Homo sapiens: one gene and its partners. The protein of the gene in region 1 purifies or fractionates together with the protein of each later gene. This does not show direct contact. Each region holds a gene or a part of one and is shown in the gene's direction. Other genes may lie near its edges.

Region 1 (3,770 bases):
GCTACCGTTTTTGCTATAAAGTTTTTCAGGCTCCCTTTCTTTTCAGTAAAGCTGGGTCCAGGGAAATAATTTGTCATTTACTTAGGTAGGAAGAAATAGTCTACTGCCCCTTTTTCTTAAAGACAGTATATGCCTTCAAAAATGTTATTATAAACATTTTCAAGCATATAGAAAAGCAGAAAAGTGTGTAATGAACATCCATACACCTATCAACCAGATTAAACAATTATATTTTTCCTATTTGCTTTCTCTTTTCTGTTGAAATATTTAAAAATATAGATAATGTTTTAATGTATTTAAGTATGTTTAATGTGTAAATTAATGTTTCAAATTCAATAAAGCTGGAAATATTTTATAGTATACTATGAACATTTTCACTCGTAAACACTTGAGTGTCATGTACCCATTTTTAAGTGCTTTTCAACTTCGAATCCCTCTGTGACTGACTGGCAGTCAGGTCTACAGAGGAGCTTCCCTCCCTGGGAGTAGGAGGGCTCCAGGTGCCTCCTTGGGGTCTGTGTGTCCCCCTTCCTCCCTGGTATGTCAGAGCCCATGCCTCTACTTGCTCTATGCTGTTGTAAAACAAGGAATGACCAACTGCTACAATCTTTATAGGACTGCTCTGTACCAAAGGCCTTTACTGGGGGAATGTGAGAAGAAGAGGGAAATGGTTTAAAAGGATGATCCATGGGGAGGATTTGATCATGCAGGCAGTTAGGCCTTTATACTATAAAACTTCATCACTCCTTAGAATTGAGCACCATACATTGCACACTTTTCCCTAGTTGAAAAGAATTCTGAAATATACTCTTATTGGCAATAGAGTTCTATGACAAAGTGGATGGCTAGGCTCAGAAATCAGAGACCTGTGAAAAATATTCTGTTTCTGCCCTTTTTTCGGGGGTGGGGTGGGGAAGGGAATAAAAGTCTCCCCTTTTCTCTCAGAGATGTTATGAGGATTTTAAAAAATACCTGAAATAAAGACATATCTACATTCATAAACGTGCTGTTGTTATTCTGAGCCTCTGGTTAACATCCAAGGCTAAAATGTCAAACATTAGCCTTGTAGCAAATGATGGAGAAATCAAGGCAGAACTTCGGATCTAGTCAGCCTGAATGCTAGCCTTGGCTCCCCTCTAACTAGGTATGTGCCCTTGGGGAAGGAACTGAATCCTTCAGTTCCTTAGTTACCTCATTAACAAAAAGAGGATATAACAATAGCTATCTCAAAGTGTTAGTTTCTGAAATAAATGAATTAATGTGTGTAAAGTGTTCAGAACTTTATACACATACATGGTAAGCACTCCATAAATATGGTAGAATGTTTTTATTGATATTGATTGAAAGGAAATGATAGTGCCAGTACAAAGGCAAATTTTGTTCCTAAGGAGTACAAATAACAAGCTAGGTATAGTAGAGTGTGTGTGTTGCTATGGCCTAAAAATAACTTGGTGACTGTTAACTAATTTAAGTTGCATAGAGTTGGAGTGCCAAGTAATTGCAAAAACATATTGGGCCAGGAGGCTGGAGTAATTTGGGTATATCCAGAATTATTTGTTTTAGGGAAATTTGTAAAAACATGATAATAATTCTGTCCAAATAATGTCCCATAACAAAAGCATAAAACTTTTTAGCTTTGCTTTTTGTTGCCTCTCATCATCTCATCAGGAGGATTTATTTTTGGAATAAGGATTGTGGACTGACTATAAAAGGGTAGATGGAAGGAGGGGTGCGCTGGTTCCTGAGCCTAGGGTTGTGTTGAGTTAGAATGTGAAGGAAAAAGGAGGGAAGGAGTTGAATGGCCTGCTCCTGTCTTTCAGGAAGTCCTGAAACTTCTTTCTGAACTGCTGCACAGTTAGTTGGCTGTCCTCTCTCTGAGCTTTTGGGTACACTCTCCTGCTTCCTAATTTAAGTGTAGGTGAACAGATAATAGAAATGAACTCTCTCTCCCAGCCATGTTCTTGCTTTATCTGTTCCTCATTCACGATGTGCTCAGCAGAGTGAAATTTTGCTCACTTACACCTGGGTTCAAATCTAGGCATTTCCATTGACCAACTGTATGCCTTTAGGCAAATCAGGGGGCCTCTCAGAGGCCAGGTTTTCTTCATTGTAAAACAGGGACAGCTCCAGCATCCTAGGTTGAAACAAGGTGATACAAAGTACCTGGCATTTGATGGCTGTCAATAAATCAAGCCTCTGGACCCTGCTCTCCTACTCTCATGCACTAATGTAAGAACCTCTTACATTGCAGGGGCAGGGGTATTGGGGAGGATGGGCAAGTCGTTCTAAGCACAGTACTGTGGGAGCCTGTTAAGTATGAATACTCTTGCCCTTACCAATTCAGAACAGTTAATTAACTTAATCATCCAGCTTGTCATGGACAAGTTCAAGAAACTCCTCTCCTGGCAATAGGAGACATGATTTCACATTAGAAAAGCAAAGCAGGGGAAGGAAACTGAATAGGTAAAGCACTTTGCCTATTTCTGTTTTCAAAGCACGTGTGTATAGGAGAAAGGAGAAGGGAGAATGGTGAATATGTACACTTTTCTACTTGGTCCTTTAGGCAAACCCATCTGAAGGTCTGACAAAATTACAGGAGCAGAAAAACTTTCCGTCACATACTCCTGGTGCATACACCCTCAGGGACTAAGTGGGAGCTTTTGACCAGTAGCAAAAATCTAGTTCCTTAAACCCTGCATTATCAGAAGCCAGAACCTCCAAGCCCCAGCATTGCTGAAGAGCAGTTTGGGCATGAATGTGTGATATATCGGAGTGCTTAGGCAGTTTAATCCAAGTTGGTTGAAAAAGATAGACTACATATTAAGGAGAGAAATTCTAGTTCCAGGAGAGGTCATCTCACCTTTTTGGAACTAAAGAATCCCAGCTTTGAGAAGAGCAAGGAACTTTAGAGGGCCCCTAATCCAGTAGTTTTCACTGCAGGCTGTTCATTGGTATCACCTGAAGGTGATTTATAACCTATGATGCCCAGTTCGTGTGTCCAGAAAGCCTGATTAAATTGGTCTGGGGTGCAGCCTGCACATCAAGATTTTTTTAAAGCTCCCAAAGTGATTCTAACAGGCAGCAAAGTTTGAGAACCATTGATCTAGTCCGGTATTCTCATTATGCCACTACAGGAATGGGGCTTGTCCAAGGTCACATGCATGATTAATTTTAGAGATTTAGTCCTTAATGTTAAAGTAGGTCTTGCCAGGTTCAACAGATTCAATAGATATCAACAGACTGAGGTATTCGTATGTATCATTATTTAATAACAACAGAATCTAATATATAGCATAAAATATAAGATTTTTTGAGTACTGATGCCTTTTTTCTTGAATTTTGAGATTTCAGTTCAGAACTAAAAAGACCAAAGTCTGAGGACTTTCAAAACCAGCAGTTCATGGTCTATATATTTACCTGGATATTAGAATATGGACCAAATATTAATGTTGATTTAATCTCTTCATCTGGGGAACCTAGTGGTTTAAGCTGTTAACCTAGTGGTTTCAGCTGTTAACAGCTATCAAAACAGGTATCAAAGAAGCCCAACCATCTTAGGCTTCTAGGGACTTTTTGGTAGGTGGTCTCCACAGCTGTACAAACTTGTGGGCAGAGGAGATTCATTTGTTTGTTCAATAAATATTGTTGAATGCCTTTGGTGTGCTAGGCACTAATCTGCAGGCTGGGCAATCTGCATCACAATGCTTATCATTCAAATGCAAGAAAGACAACATATATGGATGGGACCAGTCTTCCAGATCCTTTCCATC
Region 2 (3,770 bases), on another chromosome or scaffold:
AATACTACATGATTCCACTTATATGAGGTATCTGAAGTAGTCATACTCATAGAAACAGAAAGTAGAATGGTGGTTGCCAGGGGCTGGGAAAGGGGAAAGTGGGGAGTTGTTTAGGGGGCATAGAGTTTCTGTTTTGCAAGATGAAAAAAGCTGTGAAGATCTGTTGCACAATGTGAATACACTGAACACTGCTGAACTGTACACTTAAAATTTGTTGAGATTGCATTCTATGTTATGTGCTTCCTTTAAATTACAGTTTTAAAAAATCAAACATCTTGGAGTTGTAAGGAAAAAATACAGAGATTGTAGAGTTCTAAGACCTATGGTTGGCCAGGTGTGGTGGCTTATGCCTGTAATCCCAGCACTTTGGGAGGCTGAAGTGGGCAGATCACCTGAAGTCAGGAGTTCGAGACCAGCCTGGCCAACATGGTGAAACCCTGTCTCTACAAAAATACAAAAATTAGCCTGGCATGATGGCAGGTGTCTGTAATCCCAGCTACTCGGGAGGCTGAGGCAGGAGAATTGCTTGAACCCAGGAGGAGGAGGTTGCAGTGAGCCGAGATCATACCACTGCACTCCAGCCTAGGCAACAGAGCGAGACTCTGTCTTAAAAACAAACAAACAAAAAACAAACAAAAAAACCTATGCTTGTATTTCAGCTGTATAACTTAACTAGTCTTGTGACCTGTATCAACCTGGCTGAGTACACTCACAGACTTGTGAATAAGCAACTATTAACACTGCTTGGCAGTCCTTCTGTGATAGTCTGGTCACCTCGTCCATTCACAGCAGTGACTACTTCAGACCTTTCTACACTCTTCAAATCTTTAACCTGCAACTAACTAAACCCTCAGACTTCTAGTCACAGAGAAAATAGGAGCCAACATACATGAACTCCCTTTATTCACTCTCAAACCTACAAACCTAGGTGTGTCTGCATTCTTTTGAATCACTTTTCCTCTGTCTTCCTATCTAATGTAAATCCCACCCATTGTGTTCTTCACCTGTTACCCCTTTTTTTGTCTTGTATATTCACTTCTCTCTCTTGCTCTTCCCTTTCTCTCCACTGATGATCTCATGCGTCACTCCACTTACTGTCCTCTTCCTAGTCAAGCCTTTCAAAAGATTTGTTAGTATTCATGGACTCCATCTCCTTCCTTCCTTTGTTCCTTCCTTCCTTCCCTCCTTCCTTCCTTCCTTCCTTCCCTCCCTCCCTCACTCTGCCCAGGCTGGAGTGCAGTGGTGCAGTCTCGGCTCACTGCAGTCTCCACCTCCCAAGTTTAAATGATTCTCCTGCCTCAGCCTAGTAGCTGGGATTACAGGCCTGAACTGCTATGCCCAGCCTACTGACTCCCTTTTCATACCTCCTATTCCTTCACCCATTCTGGTCTCTTCCATCCTTGTAAACAGCTCTCAATAGGGTTAACTTCTGTTTCTTGTAGTTCAGAAAGTTCCTTTTTAAAAAATTATTTTTTATTTTGAGACAGGGGCTCATTCTGTCGCCCAGACTGGAGTGCGGTGGTGTGATCTCAGCTCACTACAACCTCTGCCTCCCAGGTTCAAGAGATTCTCCTGCCTTAGCCTCCCTAAGTAGCTGGGATTACAGGCGCCCACCACCACACCTGGCTAATTTTTGTAATTTTAGTAGAGATGGGGTTTCACCACGTTGGCCAGGGGTGCCTCGAATTTCTGACCTCAAACGATTCACCTGCCTCGGCCTCCCAAAGTGCTGGGGTTATAGGCATGAGCAGAAAGTCCCCATGTTTTAAATCTTCATTTGGCTTGATCTTTTAGAGTAAAGACCAAAATCCTTTTTTTTTTTTTTTTTTTTTGAGACAGAGTCTGGCTCTGTTGCCAGGCTGGAGTGCAGTGGCGCGATCTTGGCTCACTGAAACCTCTGCCTCCCAAGTTCAAGCGATTCTCTTGCCTCAGCCTCCTGAGTAGCTGGGACTACAGGCGTGCGCCACCACACCCAGCTAATTTTTGTATTTTTAGTAGAGCAGGGTTTCACCGTGTTGGCCAGGATGGTCTTGATCTCCTGACCTCGTATCTGCCCGCCTCGGTATCCCAAAGTGCTGGGATTACAGGCCTGAGCCACCACACTCGGTCATCAAAATTCTTTAACGTGGGCAAGTGAGCCCTGTGTGATGATCTTGCCAAACCCGTTTTCTGTACTGCAGCTCTCTTGGCCTTTTGAGTTCTTTGACATGCCGCATTCCCTCTTGCCATGGAAACCCACAGGTTGTCCTCTCCCTGGAATGCATGTCTTCACCTCCCACCTGTCAGTTAACTATCACTTTTGTTCTTCAGATTTCAGCCTAGTTATCACTTCCTCATGGATAATTCTTTCCTCTGGCTAGGTCAGAGTCCCCTATTATGTGATCTCTTGCCCTGGCTACCTCTCCTTCATATCCTTCATATCCTGACCACAGTTGGATTTTATTTTATTTTTATTTATTTTTTTATTTTTTGAGATGGAGTCTTACTCTGTAGCCCAGGCTGGAGTGCAGTGGCGTGATCTCGGCTCACTGCAGCCTCCGCCTCCTGGGTTCAAGCGATTCTCCTGCCTCAGCCTCCCTAGCAGCTGGGACTACAGGCGCATGCCATCACGCCTGGCTAATTTTTTGTATTTTTGGTAGAGACGGGGTTTCGCTGTGTTGGCCAGGACGGTCTTGATCTCCTGACCTCGTGATGTGGCCCGCCTTGGCCTCTCAAAGTGGTGGGATTACAGGCGTGAGCCACTGTGCCCGGCCAGATTTTACATTTATGTATGATTATGATTAATGTTTTTCCTCACTGCAGTATAATCTTACCAATACCTCACACATGGTGAATGAGTGAGTAAATGTGATTTGCTGGAGGTATCCCTAAACATTAAGGAAAATAAATGTATTTCTCAACTGACTAAACTACATGGTAAAAATACATATTTAGTAATTTTGAAAAATTTATAGTGTCCCTTCATTTGTAATCAGTAAAAAAGATATTTACTGTAATCCTAGCACTTTAGGAGGCTGAGGAGGGAGGATCACTTGAGGCCAGGAGTTCAAGGCAAGCCTGGGCAACATAGCAACATCCCAGTTCTACAAAAAATACAAAAATTAGCCAGGTCTGGTGGTGCGCGTGCGCCTGTAATCCTAGCTACTAGAGAAGCTGAGGCAGGAGGTTGCTTGAGCCCAGGAGTTTGAGGCTGTAATGAGCTGTGATTGCCTCACTGCACTCCAGCCTGGGTGACAGCAAGACCCTGTCACAAAAAACAAACAAAAAAAAGGTGTTTACTGAAATTGGTCAAACTCAAGACAGATTGAAGATAACTCTTTGTTGCGGCTACCTTTGGTGTTTTTTTTTTCTTTTTCTTCTTTGAGACGAGGTTTCACTCTGTTGCCCACGCTGGAGTGCAGTGGCTCAGTCATGGCATACTACAGCCTCTACCCTCTGAGACTCAGGTGATCCTCCCACTTCAGCCTCATGAGTAGCTGAGACTATAGGCACAAGCCACCATGCCCAGCTATTTTTTTTTTTTTTTTTTTGAGACGGAGTCTTGCCCTGTCACCCAGGCTGGAGTGCAATGGCATGATCTCAGGTGACTGCAACCTCTGCCTCCTGGGTTCAAGCAATTCTCCTGCCCCGGCCTCCCAAGTAACTGGGATTACAGGTGTTAGCCACCATGCCCAGCTAATTTTTTTGTGTGTGTTTAGTAGAGACAGGGTTTCACCATGTTGGCCATGCTGGTCTTGAACTCCTGACCTTGTGATCTGCCCACCTCGGCC
Region 3 (3,770 bases), on another chromosome or scaffold:
TGATATCTTTTTTCTTAGTTTCCAGTGAGGAACCTGAACGATTATAAATGGTATTATTAAAATGTGTTCCATAGAATCTGTACTGTCAAGATTATCAGGATATCATTTGGAAATACATTCTGCTATTGAGAAATAGAGCTTTGCTGCATTATTCAAGATAATGTAAAAATCAAACTCTTTGGTATTATTTTTATTGAGTTTTAAAAAGAAAAAGTAAAAGATGTTTCTCTTCTTACAAAAACCAATAGGCCCCAGTGAAATATCATGGAGACAGATCAAAGGAGAGTTTAGTGAGTTTTGCAATGCAGCATGTTAGAAGTACAGTGACAGAACTTTGGACAGGTAATTTTATTTTCTTAATTTGCTTGATTTTCAGGGTATTTTGAAATCAGTATTTTGTTTTTAATGGCAATATTAACATTTTGGTCATGGTATTGAAATTTTAAAGTGTCTTTTCCATGTTTCTTAGAAGGGAATTGTGTCATTTACTCTGAACTCTGCTGAATTTAACAAACTAGTTAAATTTTTACAGAAACTTGAACTATCGAGATATGGGAAATGGATATGAGATAGGGCTACGGTAAAAAAGGCATCTCTCAAAGTGCAAAAAATGTTTTGTAATACAAGTGTTTTATTGCTTTTTTAAATATGCTTATCAATCAGTAAATTCAAACCTATTCTGTTTAATTTTAAAGTTTAAAAATGCTTCTAATCTTAGGCTTTTAACTCATTAACTGCCTTTAGGCAGATTAAGCTAATAATAGTATTTGTGGCTCAAGATGTTCATTTTATTCATTGAGTAAAGTTACGTGTCAGAAACTATTAAATAGTGGGGCTGCAGTAATAAAATATATAGTCCCTGCCATCAGTGACTTCATTAGTGAGGAAAACATTAGTAAACAATTAAAATGCAATATAGGTACTATTATTATAGAGCTTAAGGGAGCATAAGATGTGTAAAACAACCCAGTTGGGGAAAAGAGAAAGAGTTAGAAAATACTTCTTGAAAGAAGTCATATCCAATCTGTCATGAAAATGAATAGGAAGCCTTAGGAGATCACTGTGTATTTGGGGAACTGGCAATACTTCATGAATCTGACAAAAAGATCAATAATTGGGTCAAGTGGTGTGGGGAAATATAATATAGCTGGCTAAATAGGTAGGCAAAGCTCAAGTCACAGGGGCCTAACTTGCCAATTTGAGTTTTTTTCTTAATGAAATAATGAATTTAGGTTTTATATGATGAAAAAATTGGAGAGCCATTGAAGGAATTTGTCATACTCAAGAGTATCTTTGGAAAGATAACTGGTAAAACTCAGAGTGGATTAGAAGAGGGTGAGATTAGAAAGGAAAAATTACTTAGAAGACTGTTTCCATTAGTAAAGGAGTAATAGGTGATCAGAATTTGCTTTTTTTCTTTTATTTTTAAGGAAATTTTGTCAACTCCATACAAACTGCTTTTGCTGCTGGTATTGGCTGGCTGATCACTTTTTGTTCAAAAGGAGGAGGTAATACTATTTTTTAATTTTGTTGGAATGAGAACATGACATTTAAATTTTTGGTGACAGTTTTAAGTATGCTACTGTAATTGATTATTAAGTACTAGAAACTACAATTTATGCCCAGGATTACAATTTTTTTACTTAATGAATATTCGCCTTTTTCATTATTTTACACATGAGGTTATTATTCATTTTTTAATGTATCCTCTATGTTTTTATGTTCAGTGGACCAGTTTTTCAGCTTAGACTCATGATAAATTGTACCTTCAGATAGCCACAGATGTTATTTGACAATTTGCAAAAATAACTAGTTGTTTACAGCTCTAACCCCTCCCAAAATAATAATTTTTTGGAAATATGGACTTTGCTTCATGCTTATATATATCTCTCAAACATACATAGATTTGCCTCATACAATTATATACTTGAAGATGACAGCTTCTTCTAGGAACCTTTCCTTGAATAAATTAAGTTGAAAATTCAGTACTCTGCATAGCAAGCCGTAAACTGTAAACTGTGTTCAAGCAATGTGGTTGGTTAAAAATTGTTCTAAGACAACAAAATATTATAACTCAATGTATTTGCATGTATTTAATCCCAACATGAGTCTTCTCCCCACATTTCATCTCTCAGCCTTCATGCTGCTATATTGAAAAGGTACTGCCTTGTAACTAAAATCAACCCATTACCCCATCCTGTAAGGCCTATGCTAGAAAGACACTGCCTTGCAGCAAAACGTCAGCCTTAAACTTAACTAATCACCAAGGGATTTTGTCTCATTTTGGCCTATTGCCCAAATTTCTGTTCATCCACACATGAACAAAAGTTCTTACATTCTCTGAGATTCTTTTACTTCTCACCTCAAGTAAATTGCTTCTCCCTGTCTTTGTAGGCTCTGTGATGCTATAGCTCTCTTTCTTCTAAATCTTCTCTCATTGTATTCTAGTGTTCATATTTGCAGAACTTTCATAAAAATAGTGAAGGCACTATTTAAAGATTTTATTGTATTTTGAGGATCCTTTATATACTTCTATCAAATATCTATTACATTTTATTTCCCCCCAATTTTGAGATCTCTTGGATAAAATGGATTGTTGATAGGAGGAGAGATTGAGAGTATTAACCTAAAGAGAGAAAATTACTTTTTCTCTGTAGCTAGACATCCTAGAAATTAAAGGGAGAGAATGAAAGAAAGAGGGAGCGAGGGAGTGTGTGTGTGTTTTTGTGTGTGTGTTTGTATGTGTGTGTGTGTAGAAGGATTTCCATATCTATCAATAGAGTCCAGCTCAATTAATTGCCTTCGAATGAACATGGTAATTTGGGGGAAAGGCAAATGCAAGTATTTTCATCAGGCTTAATAAAGGTAAAACTGCCTCATAAGGTTTTTTTGTCCCCAGATTGTTTGACTTCACAGACACGACTCAGGCTTAGTGGCATGTTGGTAAGCATCAATCATTTTGTAAAACTATATCACCATGTAAAGAAACACATTTAGAAATTGATTTGAAACATTTTCTTCCCTTATTTCTTGAACATTTAACTCACCTATTTGTAATCTTATTTTCTGATGACTGTATTCATAGCTATGTGTTTTTTCCTGAATAATTAGTTACGTTCAATAAATTTTAACGTGGTATCAATTCTAAGTGTCATTTACTTTGTAAGTATTCTGTAATTTATAAGTTCCTCTTCAACTGAAGTTACATGTTAGTGTTTTTGTCATTTCCCAACTTTATCTTTTGTTGTTTTCTTTTTTAGTCATTTTTAAATGTATATAGCTCTCATGTTATGGCTGGGAAGTAGCCTGAGTGATGTTGATTTTTTAACACCATTGAAATACCCTTTGTGGCTTTGTGGCTTGACAAAGCCACACAAATTGTCAGTTTTGAAAATTTTGGAAATTCTTTGTGAGCTTGAATATAATAATGTTATGTTAGGTGTAATATATGTTAGGTGTAGTATTACATTTATTAGATCAGATTTATTAATCATGTTATTTGTTTTTGGACTACATGATCTATAATTTCTAAGAGGGATGTATTAAAATCTCTACCATCCATCATTGATTTATCTATTTCTTATATTTCTGTCAGTTCTTCCTTTACATATTTTGACATTATATTGTTGGCAGCAGTATGATCATTATATCCTTTGGCGGCTATTTATTTCTCTTTGTGCATTATGGATTTGTTTACACAAATTCTGTTTTATTTGATATTAAAATCACTAACTTAGTATGCTTTTGTTTCATTCCCTTTCTTATTTCAC
Region 4 (3,770 bases), about 71 Mb from region 1:
CAGTTTTGCCCCCCAGGGAACATTCAGCAAGTCTGGAGACATTTTTGTTTGTCACGACTTAGGGTGCTACTGGCATCCATGTGGGTAGAGGCTAGGGATCCTGCCAAATATCCTATAATGCACAGGACAGCCTCCACAAAAAAAGAATTATCCGGCTGGGCATGGTGGCTCATGCCTGTAATCCAAGCATTTTGGGAGGCCGAGGCAGCTGTATCACTTGAGCCCAGGAGTTCGAGATCAGCATGGGCAACATGGTAAAACCCCATCTCTACAAAAAATGCAAAAATTTGGCTGGGCGTGGTGGCTCACGCCTGTAATCCCAACACTTGGGGAAGCTGAGGCGGGCGGATCACCTGAGGTCAGGAGTTCAAGACCAGCCTGGCCAACATGGTGAAACCCTGTCTCTACTAAAAAATACAAAAATTAGCTGGGTGTGGTGGCGCACGCCTGTAGTCTACTACAGCTACTCGGGAGGCTGAAGGGGGAGAATCACTTGAACCCAGGAGGCAGAGGTTGCAGTGAGCCCAGATTGCACCACTGCACTCCAGCCTGGGCGACAGAGTGAGACTCCATCTGAAAAAAAAAAAAAAAAACAAGGGCCGGGCACGGTGGCTCATGCCTGTAATCCCAGCACTTTGGGAGTCTGAGGCGGGCGGATCACGAGGTCAGGAGTTCAAGACCAGCCTGACCAACATGGTGAAACCCCGTCTCTACTAAAAATACAAAAATTAGCCGAGCATGGTGGCATGTGCCTGTAATCCCAGCTACTCAGGAGGCTGAGGCAAGAGAATCTCTTGAACCCAGGAGGTGGAGGTTACAGTGAGCCGAGATCACACCACTGTACTACAGCCTGGGCGACAGAGTGAGACTCCATCTCAAAAAAAAAAAAAAAAAAAAATTAGTCGGGCATGGTGGCGGGTGCCTGTAGTCCCAGCTACTCAGGAGGCTGAGATGGGAGGATCACCTGAGTCTGGGAGGTGGAGTCTGCAGTGAGCCGTGATTGCGCCATGCACTCCAGCCTGGGTTACAGAGTGAGACCCTGTCTCAAAAAGTAAAAGTTAAAAAAAGAAAAAGAATTATCTAGTCCAAAATACCAGTCATGCTGAAATTGAGAAACCCTGCTATATTTAGTGTGTCTCATTTTGTCTGTCTCATCCCATCCTCTCTCAGAACCAGGCTGAGATAGAAGTTCAAAAGTAAACTGGTGGGCTGGGCATGGTGGCTCACACCAACATTTTGGGAGGCTGAGGTGGGCGGATCACTGGAGGTCAGGAGTTCACGACCAGCCTGGCCAACATGGCAAAACCCCATCTCTACCAAAAATACAAGAATTAGCCGGGCATCATGGCGCATGCCTATAGTCCCAGGTACTCAGGAGGATGGTGCAGGAGAATTGCTTGAACCCAGGAGGTGGAGGTTGCCGTGAGCCAAGATAGTGACACTGCACTCCAGCCTGGGCAACAAAGTAAGACCCTGTCTCAAAAAAAAAAAGTAAGCAGGTAAGACAGAAGTATTGTGCCATATGCTGGGCCATAGGCTTTCTGGTCTCATTCCACCCAGCAGAATGCTTATACCTGGAATGAAATGATATAAGTACCTGCCTCATTGGGTTAAAGATTAAATGATTGATTAATGCATGAAAAAATATGAGAATAATGCCTGGCACATTCAATAAATGCTTAAAACCAAACAAAACCCAAGACCCTGTCACCCCGATTTTGGGCACTCCAGTTTTAGTATATTTTATTTTATTTATTTATTTGAGATGGAGTTTCGCTCTTGTTGCCCAGGCTGGAGTGCAAAGGCGCAATCTCGGCTCACTGCAACCTCCGTCTGCCGGGTTGAAGCAATTCTCCTGTCTCAGCCTCCTGAGTAGCTGGGATTACAGGCGCATACCACCATGCCTGGCTAATTTTTGTATTTTTAGTAGAGATGGGGTTTCATCATATTGGTTAGGTTGGTCTCAAACTCCTAACCTTAGGTGATCCGCCCGCCTCAGCCTCTCAAAGTGTTGGGATTACAGGCGCCAGCCACCACGCCCAGCCCTGGACTAGATCTTACTTTTAACCTTTATTCTCAAAGCCTCTTCACCTGCAATCATGATTTAGAAGTGTAAGCATTCGGCCGAGCACGGTGGCTCACGCCTGTAATCCCAGCACTTTGGGAGGCCAAGGCGGGCGGATCACCTGAGGTCGGGAGTTCGAGACCAGCCTGACCAACATGGAGAAACCCCATCTCTACTAAAAATACAAAATTAGCTAGGTGTGGTGGCGCATTCCTGTAATCCCAGCTACTTGTGAGGCTGAGGCATGAGAATCTGGTCAAAACTCCATCTCAAAAAAAAAAAAAAAAAAGTATAAGCATTCTTTTACCTATTATGAAAATGGGAAGAAAATAATCAACCAGGGTTGATATGCCCAAGAGCATGCCTTGAATGTATCAGCTACCCCAAATTCCCTTTTTTGACTGTTTGAGTGCCCAAAGAAGATAAGAAATCCGAAGTTTATTTACTGCTCTATAAGTTAACATTGAAGGAGATAGGAGGAAAGAACACTTTTCTACAAACTGGATATAGGTAGAATGCTATAAGCTTAGCTGAAACACTTATGCCATCTATGGAATGAGGACCCATTAGATTATTTGACCTACCTCCTCTGTGAAGATCAATGAGAGGAAGTGTGTGAAGCCCTACATGAGTATAAGGTAGATGGAGAGGCCAGGCACAGTGGCTCATACCTGTTATCCCAGCACTTTGGATCTCGAGCCCAGGAGTTTGAGACCAGCCTGTGCAACATGGCAAAATCCCGTCTCTACAAAAAAATACAAAAAATTAGCTGGGCATGGTGGCGCTTTCCTGTAGTTCCAGCTACTCAGGAGGATCGACTGAACCTAGTAGGAGGTTGAGGCTGCAGGGAGTTGTGATCACGCTACTGCATTCCAGCCTGGGCGACAGAGTGAGACCTGTCTCAAAAATATATATATTATTTAAAAAAAAAAGATAAGTGGAAATGAATAGAGATACTTTTGTTAGTTTCCCATTTTCCTTTCTCTCCAGGAGTCCCGACCTCTACATGTTGTGCTGGGAAATGAAGCCTGTGATTTGGACTCCACAGTGTCTGCTCTTGCCCTGGCTTTTTACCTAGCAAAGGTGGGTAAAAAAACGTAGTACCTAGGATCTGAGTCCCTCAGAACGAAAAGATCTGGATTCAAGACCCAGCTCTACCACTTACCAGCATTTAGCATTGGGTAAATTAAATCCCTTAACTTTGCTGAGTCTCATGCCACCATCCATAAAAACTAAAATGATATTTTGCAGTGTTGCTGTGAGGAAAAAAGTGAGCAAATATATTTCGAGGGATATGTAAACCATAAAGCAATATTCAAACAGTTTATTACTGAGTTCCGTATAGGTATCAGTGATCTAGTGTGTATTCCTCTGCCCAGGTTAGTTCTTGAGGACTAAAAATTCCTTCTCTGCAGCATTGCATCTAGAAATAGGTATTTACCATGAGTTACCTTGTTGACTTTCATGTTATTACTAAGAAGGAGGGAGGGCAAAAGTCATCCTTTCATTTTTATAGACTGGGTACTTATGGCTTTGAGAAAGGTGGTAACTTACCTAAGTATGTCTCCTTTGGTCCCAGTAGTCTTGTTACTTTTTCCTGTCATTATAAAACCTTGTGATACCTTCTTTTCACTTTCCTATCTAGACAACTGAGGCTGAGGAAGTCTTTGTGCCAGTTTTAAATATAAAACGTTCTGAACTACCT
Region 5 (4,360 bases), about 69 Mb from region 1:
AAAATGAGGGAGACCAGGATTCATAGAGGAGCTTCCTTCCTCTGGGGAGGAAAATCCCAGGTGGAGCAGCAGGGTCTAGCCGAAGCCCCCAGGGTCTGTGGCTCCTGAGAGGTGGATTTGCTGAGGAGAGAAACCTGGACCCAACACTGAAAAAGAGCTAATGTGATGACAGAGCCCAGAGTTTAGGCATGGCAGTGGCCCTGGCCCATCCCAGAGGGAAGTGGCCGGTCAAACAAATGCTAGCAGAGAGGGAAGGACATGGGTGTGGAAGGGAGGGTAAGCCTCTTCTCCTTCATGAATTATCAGCTCACACCTCTTCTCAGCTCACACCAGGAGGCCTGGCACAGGACAGTGAATCATGCCCAAGAAACTGCCTTGTGGCTTCCTGCCTTCCTCCCTCCCTCCCTATCTTTCCTCTTTTCTTTTCTCTTTTCTTTTCTTTTCCTTTCCTTCCCCTCCCCTTCCTTTCTTCCTTCCTTTCTTTCTTTCTTTCCTTCTCTCTCTCTCTCTTTCTTTCTTTCTTTCCTTTCTTCTTTATCTATCTCTGTTTCTTTCTCACTTCCTTTCTCCCTTCCATGAACCTACAGCTCTATTCAGGAGAACAATGACTGTCCATTGACTTAACACCCATGATAACCAGGCACTGTGTGACGCTGAAGTAGAACAAGGGGCTTTCAGAACCTGGTGGAAGGAGCTGGGCATCAGGTTCAAGGGAGTAACACAGTCGTGGAACATTGGGAAAGGAGGAGCTATTCACATGCCTGAGATGTAAGGATGTCTGGATTTTCCAAGGGCCGCGTCTAGTAAGAGAGTGTGTATTGAGGGCAACTCTGAGTTAGTGACTTGAGGTTCATCCTGTAGTGATCAGAGGAAATGGCTGGTGTATGAACCTAGGGAATCAGCACGCTCCTCTTCCTATGTCACTCCTGGAGAAGAAAGATACCACAAGAGGCAGGGTCTTCAGGGCTGAGCCACAATGTCACACAGATCCAGTCAATCCTGCCTGTCCATCTCAATGACATCTACTATCCCTGATCAACACGGCACCTTAAGGCGCCCTTCACAGTGAAAGCAACTTATTTCCAAAGCAGGCATTTTGCCTTCCATTGCTCCTCCCAGGTCCAAATCCAGTAAGAGACTGAAAATCAGATGATTCACTTATTCTGCACCATCCCCATGGCCTCGCAGAACCAGAAATGCCTATTGTTATTTCCATGTCCACTTCAACCATGAGGAAGCCCAATAGGACTAATCTGGCTAAAGATTAGGGCCCAGGCCAAGAGGCCTGGCTCGTTCTAGTCCTAGGAGCATGGTACTTCCTCCTAATTTAATCCATTGCCATTCAAGAAGACCTTTGCCCACAGCAACCACACCACAAAGGGTGGACAGTGAGTCAGGCCCAGGTGACATCACTGTCAGAGCTTAAGTGACAAAAAATGTTAAGCCAGAGATACTTATCACAAAAGCTGGAATGAAGTTAGAGCAGTCTTTTAAAAAATCCAATTTTCTTAAGGCAGGGCTCATTTTCTATATAAATACCAGCTAACAAGAGACTCTTCACCAGATCCCAGAGGCTGAACACCTCGACCTTCTCTGCACAGCAGGTGAGTCTCCGCATTAGGAACACCTTAATATTCTCCAATAGTTTCTTTATTTTGATTGAGATCTCTTTGCTATGCAATGAATATATTTATTTTAAATGCAATAACGACTTTTGTTTAAGGTGACCTTATACATATTTTGACTTTCCACTCAGATTACAGGTGTGGAACTTAGGATCAGAAAAGGGGAGTGATTTCTGTAAAGGCTTGCTAAGTTAGCAAGACAATATACCCACTTCAAGAGCACTCTCCTGTCAACATGTATTGAAAATTTTTAATATAGAAGGCACTACATTGGCAATTTTGATGATCAAAAGATAAGTTTTTCTTTATTGCATGAATGTATAATCCATTAGAAAACATATACTTGACTAAAATTTGCAAACATACAGCATGGGGAGTGATTAGCAGAGAGGGAAAGCAAGTATCATGCTGTGGCAAAACGAGGAAGGTGAGAGCATCAGGAAGGACAGCCATGAGAGGTGGGCATGTGTGGGGAGGCAGCGATGATGTGGAGAGCCTGCCAGAGAGCATGTGCAGCAGGCACAGTGTGAACAGAGGCTCCCAGGTGGATTGTGGGAGCCTTAGGGGGAAGTTTAGATAAGAGTTCTCCTGGGAGAACTATCGCACTCTATAAGGAGGACATGAGTGAGTAGATTCTAGACTGCTGACCTTAAAATCTTTCCAACTTATGGAAAAACTGAGGTGTCACATCAATCTTCAGCCAATGACACACAGCCAAGAGTGGTATTAAAAGTGATTTAATCAGGGAAGAGCAAGAAACATGCATTTCTTTTCACTCAATTCCTCAGATGATCCCTGAGCAGCTGAAGACCAGAAAAGCCACTAAGACTTTCTGCTTAATTCAGGAGCTTAGAGGATTCTTCAAAGAGTGTGTAAGCGAAAGCTTCAGAGTATATATTTGCATATTTGTATGTGTTTTCATGTTGTACGTAGGTTTTTAGATGTACCAGGAAGAAAAGAAGCATAAAGAAAGGCTCCATTTACACGATGTGGAAGAAATCAACTTTACCTTATTCTCTGGAAGATAAGTGGGGATCACCAAAGCATCCCATGATCTCAAATTCAGGGAAAAAGAAAGAAAAGAGAGGCTCTCAGTTCTGAAGGAGAATGAAATGACAGATATTTGTCATTAAACTGGGCTTCATTCCTACTTAATCAAAGCACTGAATTAGCTGTTTTGTCTCTAGGTCCAGCATCCTTTGAAGCATGAGTTCTTACCAGCAGAAGCAGACCTTTACCCCACCACCTCAGCTTCAACAGCAGCAGGTGAAACAACCCAGCCAGCCTCCACCTCAGGAAATATTTGTTCCCACAACCAAGGAGCCATGCCACTCAAAGGTTCCACAACCTGGAAACACAAAGATTCCAGAGCCAGGCTGTACCAAGGTCCCTGAGCCAGGCTGTACCAAGGTCCCTGAGCCAGGCTGTACCAAGGTCCCTGAGCCAGGTTGTACCAAGGTCCCTGAGCCAGGCTGTACCAAGGTCCCTGAGCCAGGTTGTACCAAGGTCCCTGAGCCAGGCTACACCAAGGTCCCTGAACCAGGCAGCATCAAGGTCCCTGACCAAGGCTTCATCAAGTTTCCTGAGCCAGGTGCCATCAAAGTTCCTGAGCAAGGATACACCAAAGTTCCTGTGCCAGGCTACACAAAGCTACCAGAGCCATGTCCTTCAACGGTCACTCCAGGCCCAGCTCAGCAGAAGACCAAGCAGAAGTAATTTGGTGCACAGACAAGCCCTTGAGAAGCCAACCACCAGATGCTGGACACCCTCTTCCCATCTGTTTCTGTGTCTTAATTGTCTGTAGACCTTGTAATCAGCACATTGTCACCCCAAGCCATAGTCTCTCTCTTATTTGTATCCTAAAAATACGTACTATAAAGCTTTTGTTCACACACACTCTGAAGAATCCTGTAAGCCCCTGAATTAAGCAGAAAGTCTTCATGGCTTTTCTGGTCTTCGGCTGCTCAGGGTTCATCTGAAGATTCGAATGAAAAGAAATGCATGTTTCCTGCTCTTCCCTCATTAAATTGCTTTTAATTCCAGTCTTGGCTGTGTGTGTCATTGGCAGAATCTTCCTCCTTCCTTGTTTCCCCATTGTGAGTCAGGACCTATAGACAGAGAGGAGTTGATGTAGAAGTCATCTATTTAACCCCAGTACTGTTTGTTTCTATGGGTGTATGGGGTTACAGTTGAGGTGTTCCTGGAATGGCAATGGGCCTGGTGTGATGTTGAATAGAAGTTGTCACTTTGGGCAGCCACAGGCTCTCCTCTTGCACTGGACTGAGTCATGCCTGACTCCAAGCCACCTGTTCCAAGACACCTCTGATCCTCAGTATCCTGACAACAAATCTCCTGTTTGTTCCAAGAAAACTTTACTCCTACATATTTTGACTGGACAGTCTATTTTTCTTCATTTGTTTTACCTTCTAGATACCCCACCACACACATACACACACACACACACGCACACACACACACAGAGTCATTCACAAAGAGAAACATTCATTTTAAATAGCCACACAGTCACATAATCATTCACACAAGCTCTACCCTCTCTAGCTCAATGTTATTTTTTCTAAGTAACTCTTATGTGCAGAGATCCCTAAAGATGGACCAGCAAGAGAGAGAGAGGAGGATACGCAGCACCTCCCTTGTAGAATTTGCAGTCTTGTTTACGAGTTAGGATATTCATGCCCTTCTAATACAAATGAGTACACAACCATACACACAAACAC
Region 6 (3,770 bases), on another chromosome or scaffold:
CCTTCCAATGCAGAGGAAGTCCCCTCAAACGAGGCCCTTCCTATTATTAGGGAGGGTCGACAAGACCTCAGAAGAGGCCTCGAGACTTCAGAGGGAGCCACAAAACCTTTGAAGAGGCCACAGGACCTCCAAAGAGGCCAGCAAATCAGAGGAGAAAAGGGTGCTGGTTGCACGGAGAAAACTTACCTAAGATGCCTTTCAAAACCAGAAACTTGCTTTGCTGCGAGCAGTCTATGCACCAAAGGTTGACATTGCCCTGTCAACAGGCAGGGCACGGGTGGCAGCCCATATAGTTCAATGGAACCCAGTGGCCGCTTGGGCTTTGGGCTTGTCTCTGGGTCCTTCCCACTGAACAGCGAAGGCGCACCAAGCCGCAGGCAAGCAAATGCCCACAAGGGGCTCGAGGCTAGACTCACCATAATGTGTTATAGGACCAGCAGGTTTGTATGCCTGCTGTGCAGTAACAGACTTGTTACACTGAGACAGCAGAGTTTGCAGCAGAGGAAGAGTTTCATGATTGCAGGGCACCGAGTGAGAAGATGGGAGGAGATCCTCAAATCCATCTCCTTGAGGAGTTCTGGGCTGGGCTTTTTTGGTTTTGTTTGTTTGTTTGTTTTTGAGATGGAGTTTTGCTCTTGTTGCCCAGGCTGCAGTGCAATGGCGCTGTCTCGGCTCATCGCAACCTCCGCCTCCCAGATTCAAGTGATTCTCCTGCCTCACCCTCCCAAGTAGCTGGGATTACCAGTATGCAGCAACACGCCCGGCTAATTTTGTATTTGTAATAGAGACGGGGTTTCTTCATGTTGGTCAGGCTGGTCTCAAATTCCTGCCCTCAGGTGATCTGCCCACCTTGGCCTCCCAAAGTGCTGGGATTACAGGCATGAGCCACTGTGCCCGGCCTGGGCTGGGGCTTTTAAGGGGACTGGAGGGTGAGGGGCTGGAAAATTGGGAGAGTTGATTGGTGGGGCAAGGGGGATGTAATCATCAGGGTGTACAAACTGCACTCTTGGTTTAGTCAGCTCCTCGTGGGGTCCTTCGGAGCAGCTCAGTCAGTAGCTCCATCAGTATACAGGACCCAAAGGAATATCTCAAAGGGAAAACAGCATTTCCTAAGGTTCAAGTTGTGATCTACGGAGCAGTTAGGGGAACTACAATCTTGTGACAGGGTCTACATGCTTCTGAGGCAATGAGACACCAAGCAGCTACGAGGAAGCAGTCAGAGAGCACGCCGACCTAGTGACTGATGCTGATGTGCTGCGAGCTGGGTTCATTTTCATTTCTCCCCTCCCCCTGCCCTCATTAATTTTGTAAAGTTTATAGGGAACATTTCACCCACTCTGCTGTGGATCCCTGTCACTTACGGAGTCTGTCATCTTGGCTGTATGGGCTGTGGCCTCTGCGGTGCCCATTCTCAGGAGGTGTGAGACCCATGAGGACCGGAGGTGGACAAGGCTAGAGACCACACCCCCCCGCTCCATCCAATCATGTTTTCCTGGGTGCTTGGTTTCTATGCAGGCTGCATGTCCTTAGTCCCTGCATGGGAACAGCTCCTGTGGTGAGCAGGCCCCTGAGGAAGGCCTTGAGCGGGAATGGAGCCTAGGCTTAGGCTGCCTGGTAAGAGCTGGAGGGAACCAGCCGAGGCTTGTGCTACTTTTTTTTCCAGAATGAAATACGTGACTGATGTTGGTGTCCTGCAGCGCCACGTTTCCCGCCACAACCACCGGAACGAGGATGAGGAGAACACACTCTCCGTGGACTGCACACGGATCTCCTTTGAGTATGAGTATCCTTGTGGCCCAGCCTGAGGGGCACAGGCAGCACCCCTGCTCAGCAGGCCTTGTTTGCTTTGTCACCCTCTGTGGGTTCTGGCCACATCCCCAGGAGGGAAAGCAGGTGGGGCAGGAAGTTTTGGGGGAAGGGGCTGTGGTGTGCTACCCCAGCTCATCTGTGTGGCTTTGGCTTCTAAATGCCAGAGCTGAGTTTGGAAGTATCACCCTTCTCCAGCACATCCCTGTAAAGTGCTTATTGTGGGCCTGGCTCTGGACATGGTAGCAGTGCGGGCAGTGGTTCACGCAGTCAGGAAAGAAGGCAGCTGCCATGTAATCACACAGCGTGACGTGTCTTTTGAGAAGCACATGGGACATTGGTGGAGTGCTCAGAAAAGACCATGGGGAGACCACATCTCACACAGTCTCAGCCACACTCAGTGTGGCAGCTGCTGTACTGAGCACAGGAGGGGCTGGGGGACTGGCTGGGGTCAGGTGTCAGGAGGCCAGAGCAAGCCTTGTGAGCCAAGGGCAGCGGGAGGCTGTGGAGTGACCAGAGTTTGAGTCAGGGTTTTTAAAAGGTCCCTTGGCTGCCCAGTAGAGGTAGGTTGGGGGCAAGGAGATGGTCACTGCTTTCCAAGGCCACACAATAGTGGCTTGGCCCAAACTGCAGCAGTGGCTGTAAGCAGTCAGATAGCATGATGTCAGGGACGGAGCTGCCCTGTCTCTGCACTGTGATGGCTGGGAAGGAGGAAGAGTGAGGGTGGACACGTCAGTAGTCAGGTGGCCATCGGAGCCTGGGGAGCGGGGTGGAGCTGGCTGAACTCCTGGGGAGGGGAGCCGCTGTGCACTGGAGCTGGTCCCATCATGTGCGTGGCAGGGTGGGCTCACTTACCCAGGGACCATGGGAGTGTGTGACTGAGACAGGAGGGAGGGAGTCAGGGAGCTGAGGATGCTGGGGCTTGAGGAAGCTGCTGGAGTGTGGGCAGGGAGCATGGTGGTCTGAAGGCCTGGGAGTTCCCAGGAGTTGGGAGGGGCAGTGGTGGGAACTGAGCATGCCGAGGAAGCAGGCAGGACCAGGCTCTCGTCCTGTAGAGGGGAAATCCACCGTGGGGGACAGTCCACACTCACAACTGCGCTCACGGTGCCAGGGGCAGTGATGGATATGTTTAAGAAAAGGGCTGAGGAGGTCGGGCGCTGTGGCTCACGCCTGTAATCCCAGCACTCTGGGAGGCCAAGGCAAGTGGATCATGAGGTCAGGAGATCGAGACCATCCTGGCTAACACGGTGAAACCTCGTTTCTACGAAAAATACAAAAAATCAGCCAGGCATGGTGGCGGGTGCCTATAGTCCCAGCTATTCGGGAGGCTGAGGCAGGAGAATGGCGTGAATCCAGAAGGTGGAGCTTGCAGCGAGCCGAGATCGTGCCACTGCACTCCAGCCTGGGCGACAGAGCGAGACTCCGTCTCAAAAAAAAAAAACGAAAAAAGGGCTGAGGATGGGGGCGCTTCGTGGATGGGGTCCCAGTGGAGGGCTCTCCGGAGGAATGGGTTGTAGGGAGGGCTGGGCTAGGTGGAGCAGGAGGTGCAGGACGACAAGCTGGTGACGCCCAGCCTCCTACGTCATGTGTGGCCATGACTGCTCCATGTGACCACAGCACCTGGACTTTGCAGACCCCTGTGCTCCAGATTCTCTGCCTGTCAGACGGATGGTGGTCTATGCCTGTCACTTCACAGGCTCTCTGTATGGGTCAGCTTAAGCTAAGAAGGTCAAAGGGCTCCAGGTCACTCTTGGGATACCTGGTTTTGCAGGCAGGCCTGGTGAGAAAGGGCCCCGCCATCAGAGTGGCCCACCTGCTGGAGTTACGAGAGTGCTCAGGGCGGCCAGTGGGTGCTTGCATGCTCCTTGACTGCAGGCCCAGCCTCCGCCTGGTGCTCTACCAGCACTGGTCCCTCCATGACAGCCTGTGCAACACCAGCTATACCGCAGCCAGGTTCAAGCTGT

What was found.
Region 2: the proteins of DUSP10 (region 1) and NUP205 purify together in Homo sapiens (affinity purification with mass spectrometry, with the first as the bait; one large-scale study listed by BioGRID). This does not show direct contact.
Region 3: the proteins of DUSP10 (region 1) and DNAJC10 purify together in Homo sapiens (affinity purification with mass spectrometry, with the first as the bait; one large-scale study listed by BioGRID). This does not show direct contact.
Region 4: the proteins of DUSP10 (region 1) and PRUNE1 purify together in Homo sapiens (affinity purification with mass spectrometry, with the first as the bait; one large-scale study listed by BioGRID). This does not show direct contact.
Region 5: the proteins of DUSP10 (region 1) and SPRR3 purify together in Homo sapiens (affinity purification with mass spectrometry, with the first as the bait; one large-scale study listed by BioGRID). This does not show direct contact.
Region 6: the proteins of DUSP10 (region 1) and CDC45 purify together in Homo sapiens (affinity purification with mass spectrometry, with the first as the bait; one large-scale study listed by BioGRID). This does not show direct contact.

Annotation. Positions count from the first base shown.
Region 1 is NC_000001.11:221,732,052-221,735,821, reverse strand, and holds part of DUSP10 (dual specificity protein phosphatase 10), read left to right. Parts: exon of another isoform or gene 1-387; intron 388-3,770. UniProt on the Homo sapiens protein: Protein phosphatase involved in the inactivation of MAP kinases. Has a specificity for the MAPK11/MAPK12/MAPK13/MAPK14 subfamily. It preferably dephosphorylates p38.
Region 2 is NC_000007.14:135,560,735-135,564,504, forward strand, and holds part of NUP205 (nuclear pore complex protein Nup205), read left to right. Parts: intron 1-3,770. UniProt on the Homo sapiens protein: Plays a role in the nuclear pore complex (NPC) assembly and/or maintenance. May anchor NUP62 and other nucleoporins, but not NUP153 and TPR, to the NPC.
Region 3 is NC_000002.12:182,729,600-182,733,369, forward strand, and holds part of DNAJC10 (dnaJ homolog subfamily C member 10 isoform 1 precursor), read left to right. Parts: intron 1-248; coding exon 249-342; intron 343-1,430; coding exon 1,431-1,508; intron 1,509-2,899; coding exon 2,900-2,943; intron 2,944-3,770. UniProt on the Homo sapiens protein: Endoplasmic reticulum disulfide reductase involved both in the correct folding of proteins and degradation of misfolded proteins.
Region 4 is NC_000001.11:151,014,757-151,018,526, forward strand, and holds part of PRUNE1 (exopolyphosphatase PRUNE1), read left to right. Parts: intron 1-3,055; coding exon 3,056-3,148; intron 3,149-3,710; coding exon 3,711-3,770. UniProt on the Homo sapiens protein: Phosphodiesterase (PDE) that has higher activity toward cAMP than cGMP, as substrate. Plays a role in cell proliferation, migration and differentiation, and acts as a negative regulator of NME1. Plays a role in the regulation of neurogenesis.
Region 5 is NC_000001.11:153,000,190-153,004,549, forward strand, and holds SPRR3 (small proline-rich protein 3), read left to right. Parts: upstream 1-1,559; 5' UTR 1,560-1,604; intron 1,605-2,413; exon of another isoform or gene 2,414-2,497; intron 2,498-2,812; 5' UTR 2,813-2,831; coding exon 2,832-3,341; 3' UTR 3,342-3,667; downstream 3,668-4,360. UniProt on the Homo sapiens protein: Cross-linked envelope protein of keratinocytes.
Region 6 is NC_000022.11:19,503,699-19,507,468, forward strand, and holds part of CDC45 (cell division control protein 45 homolog), read left to right. Parts: intron 1-1,663; coding exon 1,664-1,783; intron 1,784-3,687; coding exon 3,688-3,770. UniProt on the Homo sapiens protein: Required for initiation of chromosomal DNA replication. Core component of CDC45-MCM-GINS (CMG) helicase, the molecular machine that unwinds template DNA during replication, and around which the replisome is built.